4 linked regions of the Homo sapiens genome follow. The protein of the gene in region 3 interacts with the protein of the main gene of each other region in a biochemical or structural test. Each region holds a gene or a part of one and is shown on either strand. Other genes may lie near its edges.

Evidence for each region. The genes of interacting proteins can lie anywhere in the genome.
Region 1: of the proteins of UBE2E3 (region 3) and UBA1, one has a biochemical effect on the other in vitro, tested with the Homo sapiens proteins (3 studies listed by BioGRID, with this or other methods).
Region 2: the proteins of UBE2E3 (region 3) and RCBTB1 form a complex in vitro, tested with the Homo sapiens proteins (one study listed by BioGRID).
Region 4: of the proteins of UBE2E3 (region 3) and UBA6, one has a biochemical effect on the other in vitro, tested with the Homo sapiens proteins (one study listed by BioGRID).

Annotation. Positions count from the first base shown.
Region 1 is NC_000023.11:47,200,329-47,204,180, forward strand, and holds part of UBA1 (ubiquitin-like modifier-activating enzyme 1), read left to right. Parts: intron 1-565; coding exon 566-672; intron 673-947; coding exon 948-1,038; intron 1,039-1,149; coding exon 1,150-1,282; intron 1,283-1,827; coding exon 1,828-1,925; intron 1,926-2,029; coding exon 2,030-2,176; intron 2,177-2,309; coding exon 2,310-2,486; intron 2,487-2,614; coding exon 2,615-2,719; intron 2,720-2,805; coding exon 2,806-2,886; intron 2,887-3,212; coding exon 3,213-3,368; intron 3,369-3,852. UniProt on the Homo sapiens protein: Catalyzes the first step in ubiquitin conjugation to mark cellular proteins for degradation through the ubiquitin-proteasome system.
Region 2 is NC_000013.11:49,575,207-49,579,058, reverse strand, and holds part of RCBTB1 (RCC1 and BTB domain-containing protein 1), read left to right. Parts: intron 1-3,852. UniProt on the Homo sapiens protein: May be involved in cell cycle regulation by chromatin remodeling.
Region 3 is NC_000002.12:181,060,539-181,064,564, reverse strand, and holds the end of UBE2E3 (ubiquitin-conjugating enzyme E2 E3), read right to left. Parts: intron 3,901-4,026; coding exon 3,753-3,900; intron 1,775-3,752; coding exon 1,677-1,774; 3' UTR 1,140-1,676; downstream 1-1,139. UniProt on the Homo sapiens protein: Accepts ubiquitin from the E1 complex and catalyzes its covalent attachment to other proteins. In vitro catalyzes 'Lys-11'- and 'Lys-48'-, as well as 'Lys-63'-linked polyubiquitination.
Region 4 is NC_000004.12:67,690,804-67,694,655, forward strand, and holds part of UBA6 (ubiquitin-like modifier-activating enzyme 6), read right to left. Parts: intron 1-3,852. UniProt on the Homo sapiens protein: Activates ubiquitin by first adenylating its C-terminal glycine residue with ATP, and thereafter linking this residue to the side chain of a cysteine residue in E1, yielding a ubiquitin-E1 thioester and free AMP.

The sequences.
Region 1 (3,852 bases), on a different chromosome or scaffold from region 3:
TGGATGGGTGTTTGTTAATTAAAAAGTCCAGGCCGGAAAGAGGTGCTCTGGAAGCTGAGAGTTGTCCCTGGAGTATCCCAGGTTGCCAGGGCACTGCAGCTAAATCCTGATGGAGGAGTAGGAGCTCACCCTGGTGGGGAAGGATGGACATTCAGGCAGAGAGCAAAATCCCAAAGATCATGGCGGAGCAGGCGTCGTCTTGAGAATTGGAAGCAGGTGGGTGTGGTAGGAGTGAGCTCAGACTTTGGCTGGAGACAGAGTTTTACTCCAGTGTCTCACAGGGCATGGCAGACAGACAGCAGCGGGTGTTTGTCAAATAAATGAGTCAGCTCTTCTCCAAACTCCCTCCTCCCAGCTACCTCTTCACCTTTCCTGGTATAGTCCAGGGGTTCATTTTCGACCCCCACAGAGTCTGATACACAGTAGGTGCTATGTGTTTGTGAAAGAGGCTGACCCAGCAAAGCCTGGATGTGTTTGCCTTGAGGACTGCCTGAGTCCTCCACACCAGCCCTCCATTTTTTCCCCTTCACCCCAATGCTGGGCCTGAGCCTCCATCTCTCCACAGGTGGTGGTGCTCACCAACACCCCCCTGGAGGACCAGCTGCGAGTGGGTGAGTTCTGTCACAACCGTGGCATCAAGCTGGTGGTGGCAGACACGCGGGGCCTGTTTGGGTGAGTGGCAGCCCACCTCCCTCCCTGTCCCCTTTTCCCCCAACTCCTACCAAGCCCAGGCCAAGACTCTAGGCTCTCCCTGCCCTCATCCCTTCTCAGCTACCCAGGTTTTGGGTTCTGTGTTTTCATCTCTCCCCATGTGGCACAAGTACCATCTTACATCCCAGCAGTGATAGGCTGAGTTTGCTCAGCAAGTTTTCACTACATCTTGAGGGACCCGTGGGACCTGTATGTGCATGGGACACAGGCACCAGCCCTATTGCTTCCCTCTACAGGCAGCTCTTCTGTGACTTTGGAGAGGAAATGATCCTCACAGATTCCAATGGGGAGCAGCCACTCAGTGCTATGGTTTCTATGGTTACCAAGGTAAGGAGACCAGCCCTAGGGTTCCTGGCAGGCAGGTGGGCTGCAGTAGTCCTTCCTGTCTGCTCTTGGTACCCTGGGCCTGTTTCTGAGACTCACTCTTCCTTTAACCAGGACAACCCCGGTGTGGTTACCTGCCTGGATGAGGCCCGACACGGGTTTGAGAGCGGGGACTTTGTCTCCTTTTCAGAAGTACAGGGCATGGTTGAACTCAACGGAAATCAGCCCATGGAGATCAAAGTCCTGGGTGAGCTGCGACCATGGGGGAAGCAGAGGGGAACTAGAAGATATGTTCCTGGGTTCTGGCCGGGGAGTTGAAGGGAGAAGACATGGCCCTTGGTTCAGAGTTGGGAAGACACATCCTGGTGTTTGAGATGAACTACAGACAATCCTGTGGGGTCCAATAAGAGCTGGTGGGCATGGGGGAGAGGTACTGTGTTTGAGCTATTCCTGGGAGAATGTGTCCCTGGTATCTGAGCTGAGTGGGGAAAAAGTCTCTGGTGTTTGAACAGGGCAGATCAGCGGATCTACTTGTGTGTGAGCTGATTTGGATGGGAAGCAGAGAAGGTCTTCCCGTGTAGACTTGGAGCCAGGGACACAGGGTCTCACGGGGTCTGAGCTGAGTCTGGGGCACAGGAGAGATGGTTTCTGATGTCCAAGTGGAGCCTGGAGCTGAGGGAAGACAGCTTCTGATGTCTGAGCTGAGTCGGGGCAGGAGGTTCCTTATCTTGCAGGGGTTGTGGATTTTAGGGAGAATGGGTAGACTGACAGCTCTCTTCCTGCCCTCTGTAGGTCCTTATACCTTTAGCATCTGTGACACCTCCAACTTCTCCGACTACATCCGTGGAGGCATCGTCAGTCAGGTCAAAGTACCTAAGAAGATTAGCTTTGTGAGTGTGTCGATGGGATCAGTGGGCTGTGGGGGGTGGTTCTAGGCATTCCCTAGTTCTCCATTCCTCTCTTCTGGTTCTGATGACCTCTCCCCCCGCCACAGAAATCCTTGGTGGCCTCACTGGCAGAACCTGACTTTGTGGTGACGGACTTCGCCAAGTTTTCTCGCCCTGCCCAGCTGCACATTGGCTTCCAGGCCCTGCACCAGTTCTGTGCTCAGCATGGCCGGCCACCTCGGCCCCGCAATGAGGTGGGTGAGTGGGCGAGCCAGCCAGCGCAGACATGCCTGGCACTGCAGGCTCACCATGCCTCTCTGCGTGTCCACACTCCCTGCCCTCACTGTGGCCTGACATATCCTCTCTTGGTTCTTTCTGGCCCACCAGGAGGATGCAGCAGAACTGGTAGCCTTAGCACAGGCTGTGAATGCTCGAGCCCTGCCAGCAGTGCAGCAAAATAACCTGGACGAGGACCTCATCCGGAAGCTGGCATATGTGGCTGCTGGGGATCTGGCACCCATAAACGCCTTCATTGGGGGCCTGGCTGCCCAGGAAGTCATGAAGGTCAGCACGGGTGGGGAGAGGCAGGATTGGGGTGGGCCAGGTTCCTCCATGACTCTGTCACTTGCTCTCTGTCTGTGTCAGGCCCCTGTTAACCACTGACCACCCCCTCTCTCCCTTCCCCTCTCCAGGCCTGCTCCGGGAAGTTCATGCCCATCATGCAGTGGCTATACTTTGATGCCCTTGAGTGTCTCCCTGAGGACAAAGAGGTCCTCACAGAGGACAAGTGCCTCCAGGTATGTGGGTGGGACCTGTGGGGAGGGCATCATTGGGGACATTTCTGGGGAGGCCTCTCTAACCCTCCTCCCTTTGCATTCCTTAGCGCCAGAACCGTTATGACGGGCAAGTGGCTGTGTTTGGCTCAGACCTGCAAGAGAAGCTGGGCAAGCAGAAGTATTTCCTGGTAAGTGGTCCCCTTGGATGTCTGCTCCCCTCATCTTGGCCTCTGGCCATCACCCCTGGGGCTTCCTTCGGCATCTCAATGCAACCGGTGGCGCATTCTCTTTGCCATTCTCCTTATCTTGAAGGGAAGCCCAGTGCATCCCTCGTTTCCCCTTCTGGTGCCTCCTTCCTCACATGACTGCGTGTCATTTCTTAGAGTCCTGCAACCTGAAGATGTGGTGTTAGCCCCTCTCCCCGTCTCTCAGGGGAGTGAGGGGTGATGGGTAGCTTCACACTAACCTGCATCACCCTGACCAGCCTCTGCCTGTCTTCTTGGTTGCTTCTTAGGTGGGTGCGGGGGCCATTGGCTGTGAGCTGCTCAAGAACTTTGCCATGATTGGGCTGGGCTGCGGGGAGGGTGGAGAAATCATCGTTACAGACATGGACACCATTGAGAAGTCAAATCTGAATCGACAGTTTCTTTTCCGGCCCTGGGATGTCACGGTGAGTAGGGTAGGAGGTTGGGGCTTTGTCGTCTCACTTTCCTCCTTTTTCTTTTTTTTTTTTTTTTTGAGACGGAGTTTCGCTCTTGTTGCCCAGGCTGTAGTGCAGTGGCGTGATCTCTGGCCCACCACAACCTCTGCCTCCTGGGTTCAAGCGATTCTCCTGCCTCAGCCTCCTGAGTAGCTGGGACTACAGGCATGCGCCACCACGCCCGGCTGATTTTGCATTTTAAGTAGAGACAGGGTTTCTCCATGTTGGTCAGGCTGGTCTCGAATTCCCGACCTCAGGTGATCTGCCTGCTTCAGCCTCCCAAAGTGTTGGTATTACAGGCGTGAGCCACCACACCTCACCCCTCCTTTTTCTTGTTCCCATTCTTTCTGTCAGAGATCTTTCTGCCTCTGCCAGAAGCCCTTCTTTTTGGCCTTTCTTTCCCTCAGCTTCTGTTTTTTTTTTTTTTTTTTTTTTTTTTTTGCCTTAACCTCTT
Region 2 (3,852 bases), on a different chromosome or scaffold from region 3:
TGTAAGAAATTGGTAAGAGTAACATTTGGCTGTTTGTACCTTGAGAGGGTTTTTGAATTGCTTTTGCTGTAGCATAGATGGAAGACATTAAGTTGTAATGTTGTATACCAAAGTTTACCCCAAACCGTAGAGCTCTCTTATTTGAATGTTTTTCTGGAATTAAATGGATTCAGAAATAAAGATTGTCATACCCTTCAATCTTTTGTGCTCAAATGGAACATTTATTGCTAAAAAAGGAAGAAGGCTATGAAGAACACTTTGTTCTTCTAGGAAACTGGATGATCTTCACTGAGGAAAGGCTCACATTTTATCATCTGCTGGAATATGGAGAATTTGGTTTCTGGGATTTCGTGTAATTGTTTTCTGTTATATACAATTTTTATATAGTTGTCACTAGTTTGCACATAATTATTTCCTATTTGACATATTAACATGTGTCACATGGACCATATACTTGCATGATACATTCATTTCCTTAATTATTCCAGTTGTATTTGCATTCTAGTTTTCCACTTACTTAGGATCTGACTTTCCATTAGACCTTCAGTTCCTCAGAGGCAGAGACCATGATTGTATTCTTTATGATGTCCCTGGCATTGTTGGTATCTGGGGTCATTGCAGAAGAAGAATTAATGTATGCTATTAAAGTCAGCTCTCTGTATCCATGGATTCCACATCTGTGGATTCAACCAGCCTCAAATTGCAAATATTAAAAATTGCATTTGTACTGAACATGTAGAGTATTTTTTCTTGTCATTATTCCCCAAGCAATAAACGTTAACAACTATTTACCAAGCATTTACATTGTATTAGGTATTATAAGTAATCTGGAGATCATTTAAAGTATATGGGAGGATGTGTGTAGGTTATGTGCAAATACTATGCCATTTTCTATCAGGGACTTGAGCATCTGTGGATTTTAGTATCTGCAGGAGATCCTGGAACCGGTCCCCCACAGATACTGAGGGACAACTGGATTTTGTTCACATTAGCATACAATAGTACTTTTTTCCAAGGCCCTTTAGATTTTATCACTAGCTCATTAACTATAAATAAATTTTTTTCGTAAGACAGCTTAGCAACTTAAACTGATAAATAAAATCATCACCCATTCAGTTTACAAAAATAGAGAAACCTCTATTAGGAATTTTCAGTGTATGTGTAAATGCTTTAATTCAAAGTTTTTGCAATTAAAAATATCATTTTGCATATTAGAAGTTGCTGTTTTGAGTAGTTTAAAGCTTGCTGTAGCTTGTATGCTGAAGAATGTTTAGGCTACTTAAAATGATTGTTCCAACATTCAGAGCCCTTCCAGTTTCCTCTGGCTATCGGCTTCCATAATAAAGAATGACACAAACTCATTTCATGCTTCTAAAATGACACCAGAAGCGTCAGAATCTTGGTGCTCGCCAATGCTGAAGGATTGCTTACTCTTTTCCCACTCTTTTCCTTAGCTCTAAGGTCAGTAGAAGCCAGATCTAAAGGTAGAATACCCTATTGGTGGCATTTAAAAGCCAGTACATAACAGCAATTTAAACTAGCCCAAACAAATACATTCTGGTTAGTTGAGGTCTGTGTGGAAGCCATGTGCTTACAGATCAACCCTAAATTTCCACTGTTGTTTAATATTGAGAACATTATTTCATCAAAACCAGTTTTCCTGTACCATTTCTCTCCATTTCCTGTTGTTTTTAAAATCTCCATAAGCATGTTGAAATATATTTTTGCTAGATCAGTAAAATAAACTAAAATAAAATTAGCCTTTCCTTAATATTTGTTCCTTGGGGAAAGTAAAATAAATGTGCTCTTAGGGGAATTAAAAGATTAGTTGCTACATTACTCCTTCAGCCTTCCAGTTCTAAATGTAGATTTCTAAAATTGGAAGGCCTGTGTTTGTCCTGACTGAATTTGCTTTCAGAGTATAAAGTAAAATAACCTTTTCTTCCTCATGCCACAAGTTCTCTGAGGGACAGTGCCAATAGCTAGGATAAGCCATCCCAGGGAATGGGATATTGATCTGTAGGACTAATGGACGTAGGATAAGTGCAGTGGGGATACAGGATGTATTTTCAAGTGCCAGAGAAAATACGAAGAGCCAAGTGGGTTGGCATATTATCTTTAAGGACGTTACACTCTTTCTACCTCTGCTTGCATTTTTGCGTTCCTCTTTTCTTTCCTTGCACCCTTGTTTTATCTTTATACAGTTAAAAAAAAAAGTCATTGATTCACCTAATAATAACTCATAAAGAGTGGTAATTCAGGCTGCAACACATTAATATTGTTTTTCAGAAAGTATTTCCTAAATAAAACATGGAAGGCTTGCAAAAAAATTACTATCTTAGTGAGGTACTTCAGAAGTAACTATTTAAAGATGACTGACATTCTAATTACAGCTCATCATTTTTATAATTATCAAGATGACAAGCCCTGGAAGGACCTGTCATCTTAGCAATTTGTTTGGTCTGGTTTAAATTGCTGTATGCACTGGAAAATTCTAAGAAGGCTATATTTCTTTTATAAATGCTCCGTTGAGAATTTCCCTAATCTGAACTTATATTCTCAAGACATGATTAAAACAGTATGATTTTACTTTTCCAAACACATTTTTTAGGACTGAAACCTTTCTATATTTAATTTTAGAAATGTATCTTTGAGTTTATTAATGCAGTCTTGATAAAAGCCCACAGGATGATTATTTGATTTTAAAAAATTGGGGTAAAAGGTATATAGTGTAAAATTTACCATTTTAATGATTTTTAATTACACATTTTAGTCACATTATGTACATTCACATTGTTGTACAATCATCACCACCATCAATCTCTAGACTACTTAAAAAAAATCATCTCAACTTTTTTTTTTTTTTTTTTTTTTTTTTTTTGCGACGCCTGTCGCCCAGGCTGGAGTGCAGTGGTGCAATCTTGGCTCACTGCAAGCTCCGCCTCCCAGGTTCATGCCATTCTCCTTCCTCAGCCTCCCGAGTAGCTGGGACTACTGGTGCCCGCCACCACACCCGGCTAATTTTTTCGTATTTTTAGTAGAGACGAGGTTTCACCGTGTTAGCCAGGATGGTCTCGATCTCTGACCTTGTGATCTGCTCGTCTTGGCCTCCCAGAATGCTGGGATTACAGGCGTGAGCCACCACACCTGACCCAATTTCAACTTTTATTTTAGATTCAGGGAGTACATATGCAGGTTTGTTACATGGGTATAGCGTGTGATGCTGAGCTTTGGAGTACGAATAATTCCGTCACCCAGGTAGTGAGCATAGTATCCAATAGGTAGTTTTTTAGCCTGTGTACCCCTCCCTCCCTGCCCCTGTAGTAGTCTCCAGTGTCTGTTGTTCCTGTCTTTATATCCACGTGTACCCTATATTTAGTTCCCATTTCTAAGTGACAACATGTGGTATTTGGTTTTCTGTTCCTGTGTTAATTCACATAGGATAATGGCCTGTAGCTGCATCCATGATTTTGTTCTTCTTTATGGCCATGTAGTATTCCATGGTGTATATATACCACATTTTCTTTTTCCAATCTACTGTCAACGGGCACCTAGGTTGATTCCATGTCTTTGCTATTGTGAATAGTGCTGTGATGAACATACAGGTGCATTTTTTTTTTTTTTGGTAGAACAATTTATTTTCCTTTGGATGTATACCCAGTCTTGGGATTCCTGGGTTGAATGGTAGTTCTGTTTTAAGTTCTTTGAGAAATCTCCAAACTGCTTTCCACAGTGGCTGAACTAATTTACATTCCCACTAACAGTGTATAGTGTTGCCTCTGCTGTACAGCCTCGCCAATATCTTTTGTTTTTGACTTTTTGATAATGGCCATTCTGACTGGTGTGAGATAG
Region 3 (4,026 bases):
TCCACTTGCATCACATTCACTTGGACTCCATTATAAATTATTAGTTAGGTTTTCACAGAGGTAAAGTCTGAATTCTTCAAAATAGTACCTTTGTATAGTGCTCCTCTGTAATAATGTTGGGGGTGGGGAGTTTAAGTGAAAAACAGATATGTAAGTGTAATTTTAATTTTACTCTGATATAAGACTTCTACTGACAAACAGGAGTCTGCTATTCTAGTGACACACACAACTACACGTTTTACTTTATCCGGAAGCATTTTTTATGTTAATATTTTCACTCTATACATTTTTAAGATGATACTTCATTTCCATATTGAGGACTGGAGAAGACACCTGCCCCATATACCACAACCTTGGTTACATGACCAGAGATGATTACCTTAGTCACAGGGAAACAAAACAAAACAAAACACCACCACCACACACAATTATACTCTGTTTAGCAAATCTAAATATTGCAAAGAAATTCTAACTTTCAAGAAATCTAACACTTCAGAATTACAACTAGAAAGAAGAAATTTAACCTTCTAAAAACCTTACAATTTGGTATTTTACCAATTGAGAAATAATATCACATCTGTACACTAACACAGTTCTAGTCTACCTTCAAGGCAGACAAAGATTTCTGTGTTCATCTCTGCCTCTGGCTGTATTTGCTGGCCACTTGCCATAGTAAGAATGGTAATACACAACATGAACATTCAAGACCAGGATTAGAAGTAAAAAGTGCATCACAGACTAGCTACCACATCACAGTTACCATCTGACAATATTGCCCAGTGCTGAACAAAAATCATCAATTTGGAAGCAACATGTTCCATAAGACATTACCAGATTCCTGAGTGAGCGAGCCAGGATTTCATATTCTTTTTGGCTTAAACATCATATTACCGAAGTACAACTTTATGTGTTTGAGACCAATGGGTCAAAATCCACTTTTGATTATTTAAGGTCATTCTTTCAATAACAAAGGAAAAAAACTCTATGCATTTAATAGGATTTTAAATGTTTTCAATTTAAGAATGGGTTTATTTGTGCTAGTCTTTAGTAATCTTCATAGCCACATTTTTACTTCATCAACAATCATCTCAGACACACTTTCTAACAAGACTGACTTAAAATATTACGACAGGAAACTATGCCTTCAGGAGCATGTTTATTGTGTTTGAGATGATACATCAGGTGCTCTCTGAGCTACAAAGGGTAAAAGGAAATCCTCTCATTACAAACTGACAAAGGTAAAAGGTAAAACATTTTTCACAACAGCATGAACCACATACTCAGAAATAGATCTGGGTTTAATACAAATGACATAATTCCTAGCCATCTACAGCTACTTTTATAACTTCATACAGATAATGAATTAGGCTAAAATGCACTATAATATTTGGTAGACTTCAGGACCAGTATCCTTAGTACATCACAAAATACATTTTGATATCCCAAAGAAGCAAGACTTGCAAGTAGGCGTTTTAAACATAACTAATCTACAGCTACAAAGTTCTACTCTTGATAGCATTTACCTTTTTGGGGAGTCTCCCAGGCTCCAAAGGATAAAAGCAGAGTAGAATCAGTATAACATATACACAGAAGTCCGTATTGTAAAGGCTATAAAGATTTGCAGCACAGTGAGAAGATGCCTTCTGCTCCTTCACACTGCATACAAATTATGTGAATTATGTTGCGTATCTCTTGGTCCACTGTCTGGCTATCCTGTCGTGTTCTGCTCTGTTGGTCAAATACTGAGTGGCTATGCTTCCAACCAGAGGATCCGCTGGAAAAGCAGAAAGAACATTAAAAGCTATTTTGTGGTATCTTCTTCAAGGTATAGTTCTAATATTCTATTAAAATGAAATGCTTATTTTTCAGCAGTATCTTCATATATAATAGCTAAATTTTCAAAAGAAAAAGTTTAAAGTAACATGATCATATGTATATTTTAATATTCCAGTTAGGAAAGTCCCCTTCATAAAAAAAAAAATGAATTTTGAGCTATATATAAAAAGTTAGATTTGACTTTTATAAAAGATATGTCTTTAATATACAAAAACTATTTTGTAATTTTGGCCTTTCATTCAAAATGGAAGTATACTAGGTGGTTATATTTCTGCTTATGAATAGTTCAAAAATGGTTAATTTTAAAATAAAACCCCAGTCTTACAATACCATGCTATTTCAAATAAAATGCTTCCTTCATTCTGTGCCTGATATGACTCTAATCACTATCAATATTTACACTTGAAAACTTACTTGCCATTTTGTTTTAAGTAGAATTCTGAACTAGAGAGTGAACCTGATATAAATTTTTATTTTGATGTTTAAAAACAAAAAAATATGTACATATGGTACAATATTTGAATTGTACCAAACCATAGCCAGTAAAAAAAAACTATCTTCCTTCCTGACTCCAACTGCTCAGAAGTTTCTTTCCCTGGCAAACAATTGTTACCCATTTACAACATTACTTCCCAGAGTTCTTACATGCACTGACAAGCATTTAGAATATTATGTTGTGTATATGTATTTTTTTCCAGTGCCTTTTATACTTAATATATCTTGAAGATATTTCCCTATTAGTTCATATAGAGTTGTCACATTCTTTTTAAACGTTACATCTATTAATGGGCATTGAGGTTGTTTCCAATACTCTAATAAAGGATACCACAATGAATATCCATCTGTCACTATCTATTGCATATGTATCTCTGCCGAGCATAAGGTAACAACAGTAACAGTCTTTAGTGACTTATCAAATATTTAGAAGTAAGTCAACTTAAAAAAAAAAAAAAGGTCACATAACGAAACAAAATGTGTGAAATTTCAGGTCTAAACATCACTTTATCAAGTCAGCTACCCAAGTTTCTGAAGTTCACATGTGGCAGGCATTTTTTAAAGTTATGAATTATACACAAATGATTTTATCTGAGGTTATATAATCATAATCTAGTTCAATTCTCATTGGCTATCATTTTAATATCCATTACTACTACACTTTATATAACTAATTAATTAAAAAAGGAAGGGAGAACAAGAAGCCTTCTATTATTAAAGTAGTTGCCTAAAAGCATACAGCAGCATGGAAGGAGCAGGAAAAGGAGGCACTGGTTTCAGACACATTGCTTTACTCTTGTTAGAAGTGGTCGGCCGGGCGCGGTGGCTCACGCCTGTAATCCCAGCACTTTGGGAGGCCGAGGCGGGTGGATCATGAGGTCAAGAGATCGAGACCATCCTGGCTAACAAGGTGAAACCCCGTCTCTACTAAAAATACAAAAAAATTAGCCGGGCGCGGTGGCGGGCGCCTGTAGTCCCAGCTACTCGGGAGGCTGAGGCAGGAGAATGGCGTGAACCCGGGAAGCGGAGCTTGCAGTGAGCCGAGATTGCGCCACTGCAGTCCGCAGTCCGGCCTGGGCGACAGAGCGAGACTCCGTCTCAAAAAAAAAAAAAAAAAAAAAAAAGAAGTGGTCTGTGCACCTAAATACTTTTAAAAGTAGAGATTCCATTAATGATGGTGACAAAATAATTATAGAGTGGTATGCCATTAACAAATTAAATGAAGGTATTGAGAAACTTTTGGCCTAGTCTACTTCAAATGGCATTGGTAATTTCCTCACAAACTGTTTTATGGGGATCTTTCTATGAATAACATTTACCTCTCAATCTACATTTAAAGCTAACTAAAAAAAAAAAAAAAAAAAAAAAAAAAGCACTCGTTTTTGTAGTCTTATTGTACATGTTAATAAAGATTTGCTTACCAGGGTTGCAGTCTGTCAAAAGGGAACAAATAGACAGCAAAACCTTTGAAATAGTCAAAGCGGGACTCCAGTTGTCTTTAAGGATGTCCAGACAGATGACTCCCTGACTGTTGATGTTGCAGTGATAGATTCTGGTGCGGAAAGTAACCTAAGCACAGTCACATTAAAAACAGAAGGAAAATGAATGCTGTATTACCAATTAAAACACTAAAAAAAAATGAAGGGTAATATATCATAGATGATACTAAATTATTTGACTGGAGCTAAACTTAGA
Region 4 (3,852 bases), on a different chromosome or scaffold from region 3:
TATTGGCAACAATGTGGAGAAATTGGAACTTTTGTGCACTGTTGGAAATGTAGAATGGTGCAGCTGCCATGGAAAACAGTATGAAGCTTCCTCAAAAATTAAAAAATAGAATTACCACATAATCCAGCAATTCCATTTTGGGTTATTTCTCCAAAAGAATTAGAAACAAGATCTTGAAGAAATATTTGCTACACAGATCTGCTATATGACAATGTACACAGAGTTAAAAATATAGTTGTCCCGTGAACAACATGGGTTTCAAACACACAGGTCCATTTATATGCAGATTTTTTTCAATAAATATACTGAAAATTTTTTTGGACATTTGTGACAACTTGAAAAAAACTCACGGATGAACTTTGTAGCCTAGAAATACCCAAAAATTAAGAAAATGTCATGAATGCATGAAATCTATGTACATATTAGTCTATTTTATCATTTACTACCATAAAATATACACAAATTATAAAAAGTTAAAATTTATCAAAACTATGCGTACACTTACAGACCATAGATGTCGCCATTTGCAGTTAAGAGGAATGTAAACAGATGTAAAGATGCAGTATTCAGTCATAAGTGCATAAAAGTCACTGTAGTACATACTGCACTACTGTAATAATTTTGTAGCTACTTCCAGTTGCTATTGTGGTGAGCTTAAGTGATGTATCTGGTTAAAGCACATGTGACTCTATTCATCTTTGCCTGAGCAGTTCCTCTCTCCAGTAAATTGAATATTGCAGGAAAAAGTGATGTCTTGAGATTCTTGCATATTTTTTCATCATGTTTAATGTGCAATACTGTAAACCTTGAATGACATCATGGGACCCATACAAAGTGCCACCAGTAATGTTGCAAGTGCTCCCAAGAAGCTGAGAAAAGTCATGACATTACAATAAAAAGTTGAATTGCTTGATTATGTACTGTAGACTGAGGTCTGCAGCTATGGTTGCCTGACATTTCAAGATAAAATGAATCCAGTGGAAGGACCATTGTAAAAAAAAAAAAGAAAAGCCATCATTGTAACTACACCAGCAAGTATGAAAACCTTACACTTTTTGTGAAAGATTTTTTTATCTTATATTGAAAATGCAGCACTGATATGGGTGCAGGATTGCTGAAAGAAAGTCATAGACTCTAACATGATTTGAGAAAAAGCGAAGTCATTATAAGACCACTTAAAGCAAAAAGAAGGTAAAGGATATAAAGCTGTAGAATTCTTTTTTTTCCATAGGTTACTGGGGTACACAGGTGGTGTTTGGTTACTTAAGTTCTTTAGTGGTGATTTGTGCGATTTTGGTGCACCCATCACCCAAGCAGTAAAGCTGTAGAATTTAATGCCAGCAAAGGATAGTTTGATAACTTTAGAAAGAGGTTTGTCTTAAAAAAAAGTCAGACACAACATGAGAAGCAGCTTCTGCCGATCAAGAGGCAGCAATGAGTTTCTAGACGCCATAAGGAAAATCACTGAAGAGAAAGGATATCTACCTGAATAGGTTTTTAATGTAGAAGAAAGTGCTCTATTTTGAAAAAAATTGCCACAAAGGACATTTATTAGTAAGGAAGAGAAGCAAGCACCAGGATTTAAGGCAGAAATGGATAGTTAACTCTACTGTTTTCTGCAAATGCTTTCAGGTTTATGATCAGGACTGCCCTTACATATAAAGCTGCTAACCCCTGAGCATTGGAGGGAAAAGATAAACACCAGCGGCCAGTCCTCCGGCTACATAACAAGCAGGCCTGGACAAGAACCCTTTTTCTGGATTGGTTCCATTGATGCTTTGATTCTGAGGTCAGGAAGTACCTTGCCAGCAAGAACTTTTAAAGTTCTTTTGCTATTGGACAATACACCTGGCCACCCAGAACCCCAAAGTTCAACAATGAAGGTGCTGAAGTGGTTTACTTGCTTCAAAACACAACATCTCAAATTCAGCTTCTAGATCAGGGCATCATAAAGGACCTTTAAGGCTCATTACACAAGGTACTCTATAGAAAGGATTGTCAATGCTATGGAAGAGAACCCCAAGAAAGAGAACATCATTAAAGTCTGGAAGATTATACCATTGAAGATGCTATCGTTGTTACTGACATCAGACAATCTGGCAGAAGGGTTCCGACGATTCAAGATTGCATTGATTTCTTTAATGACATGGACCCTTCTACAACAGGGGCACCAAAAAGAAACTAAAGAAAATGACAGGAGGATCAGTATTGTATAGAAACATTTTTCCAGAAATGAGAAAGCAAAAAAAGTCACATAGTAGTTACATATTTCCATAGTTACACTGTGTGTGCCTGCCTCTCTTTCCCTACCCTTCTGCCTCCACCTCTTTTGATTCTGCCACCCCTAAGACAACAAAACCAACTCCTCCCCTTCCTCCTCCTCAGCCTACTCAACATGAAGACAACAAAGATGAAGACCTTTATGATAATCCAGTTCCATCTAATGAACAATAAATATATTTTCTCTTTCTTACATGATTTTCTTAACATTTTATTTTCTCTAGCTTACTTTATTCTAAGAATACTGTGTATATATATATATACAGTATATAATACATATAATATTAAAAATGTGTGTTAATTGATTATTTACATTATCAGTAAAATTTCCAGTCAATAGTAAGGCTATTAGCATTTAAGCTTTGGGAGAGTCAAAAGTCATATGTGGATTTTCGACTGCACAAGAGGTAGGGTGGTAGGGGAGTTGGCACTCCTAACTCCTTCATTGTTCAAGTGTCAACTATACTATACTACACACTTAAAAACTTGTTAGTAGGGTAGAGTTCATGTTATGTGTTTTTACTACAATAATAACTTTTTAGAAGGTAAGTTGGAGTTATGTTCAAAATAACTCGGTAAGCTATAGTATTTGGACTTGTACTATGAGACAAAATGGTCGGAACTGTGGCTGTGTGAAAGAGAACGGAGAGAAAAGAGAACTTCTGGAATTTATCTTTATCTTACCCTACCTTCATCAAGCTTACTGATGAAATCTATCTCCCTGAGATATTAAGAGGCTAAGGATCCTCATTTCATGCCTTGTCCCTAAAATAAATCATTGTCCAAAGTCCTAGGTCTTATACTAGTCCCCATAAGCAACAGATACAGATTTTTAAAAAGAGAAAATACAGCTGGGCACGGTGGCTCGCGCCTGTAATCCCAGCACTTTGGGAAGCCAAGGTGGGCAGATCATGAGGTCAAGAGACTGAGATCATCCTGGCCAACATGGTGAAACCCCGCCTCTACTAAAAAAAATACAAAAATTAGCTGGGTGTGGTGGTGCATGCCTGTAGTCCCAGCTACTCAGGAGGCTGAGGCAGGAGAATTGCTTGAACCCAAGAGGCGGAGGTTGCCATGAGCCGAGATCGCGCCACTGCACTCCAGCCTGGATGACAGAGCAAGACTCCATCTCAAAAAAAAAAAAAAAAAAAAAAAAAAAAAGAAAAAATACAAAACTACCAAATCTTCAGATTCAGTCACTATAAAAAAAAAAACCCTCAAACATTTAAGTTAATTTTTAAAATCTAAGAAAATAAGAGCTGGTTATTGTGTGAAAATCTCACATTTTGGCATTTTGGTCTTTGTATTTCTTTTTTTTTTTTTCTTGACATGGAGTTTTGCTCTGTAGCCCAGGCTGGAACACAGTGGTGCCATCTCAGCTCACTGCAAGCTCTGCCTCCCCGGTTCATGCCATTCTCCTGCCTCAGCCTCCCGACTAGCTGGGATTACAGGCGCCCGCCACCGCCACCACACCCGGCTAATTTTTTGTATTTTTAGTAGAGACGGGGTTTCACTGTGTTAGCCAGGATGGTCTCGATCTCCTGACCTCGTGATCCACCCGCCTCGGCCTCC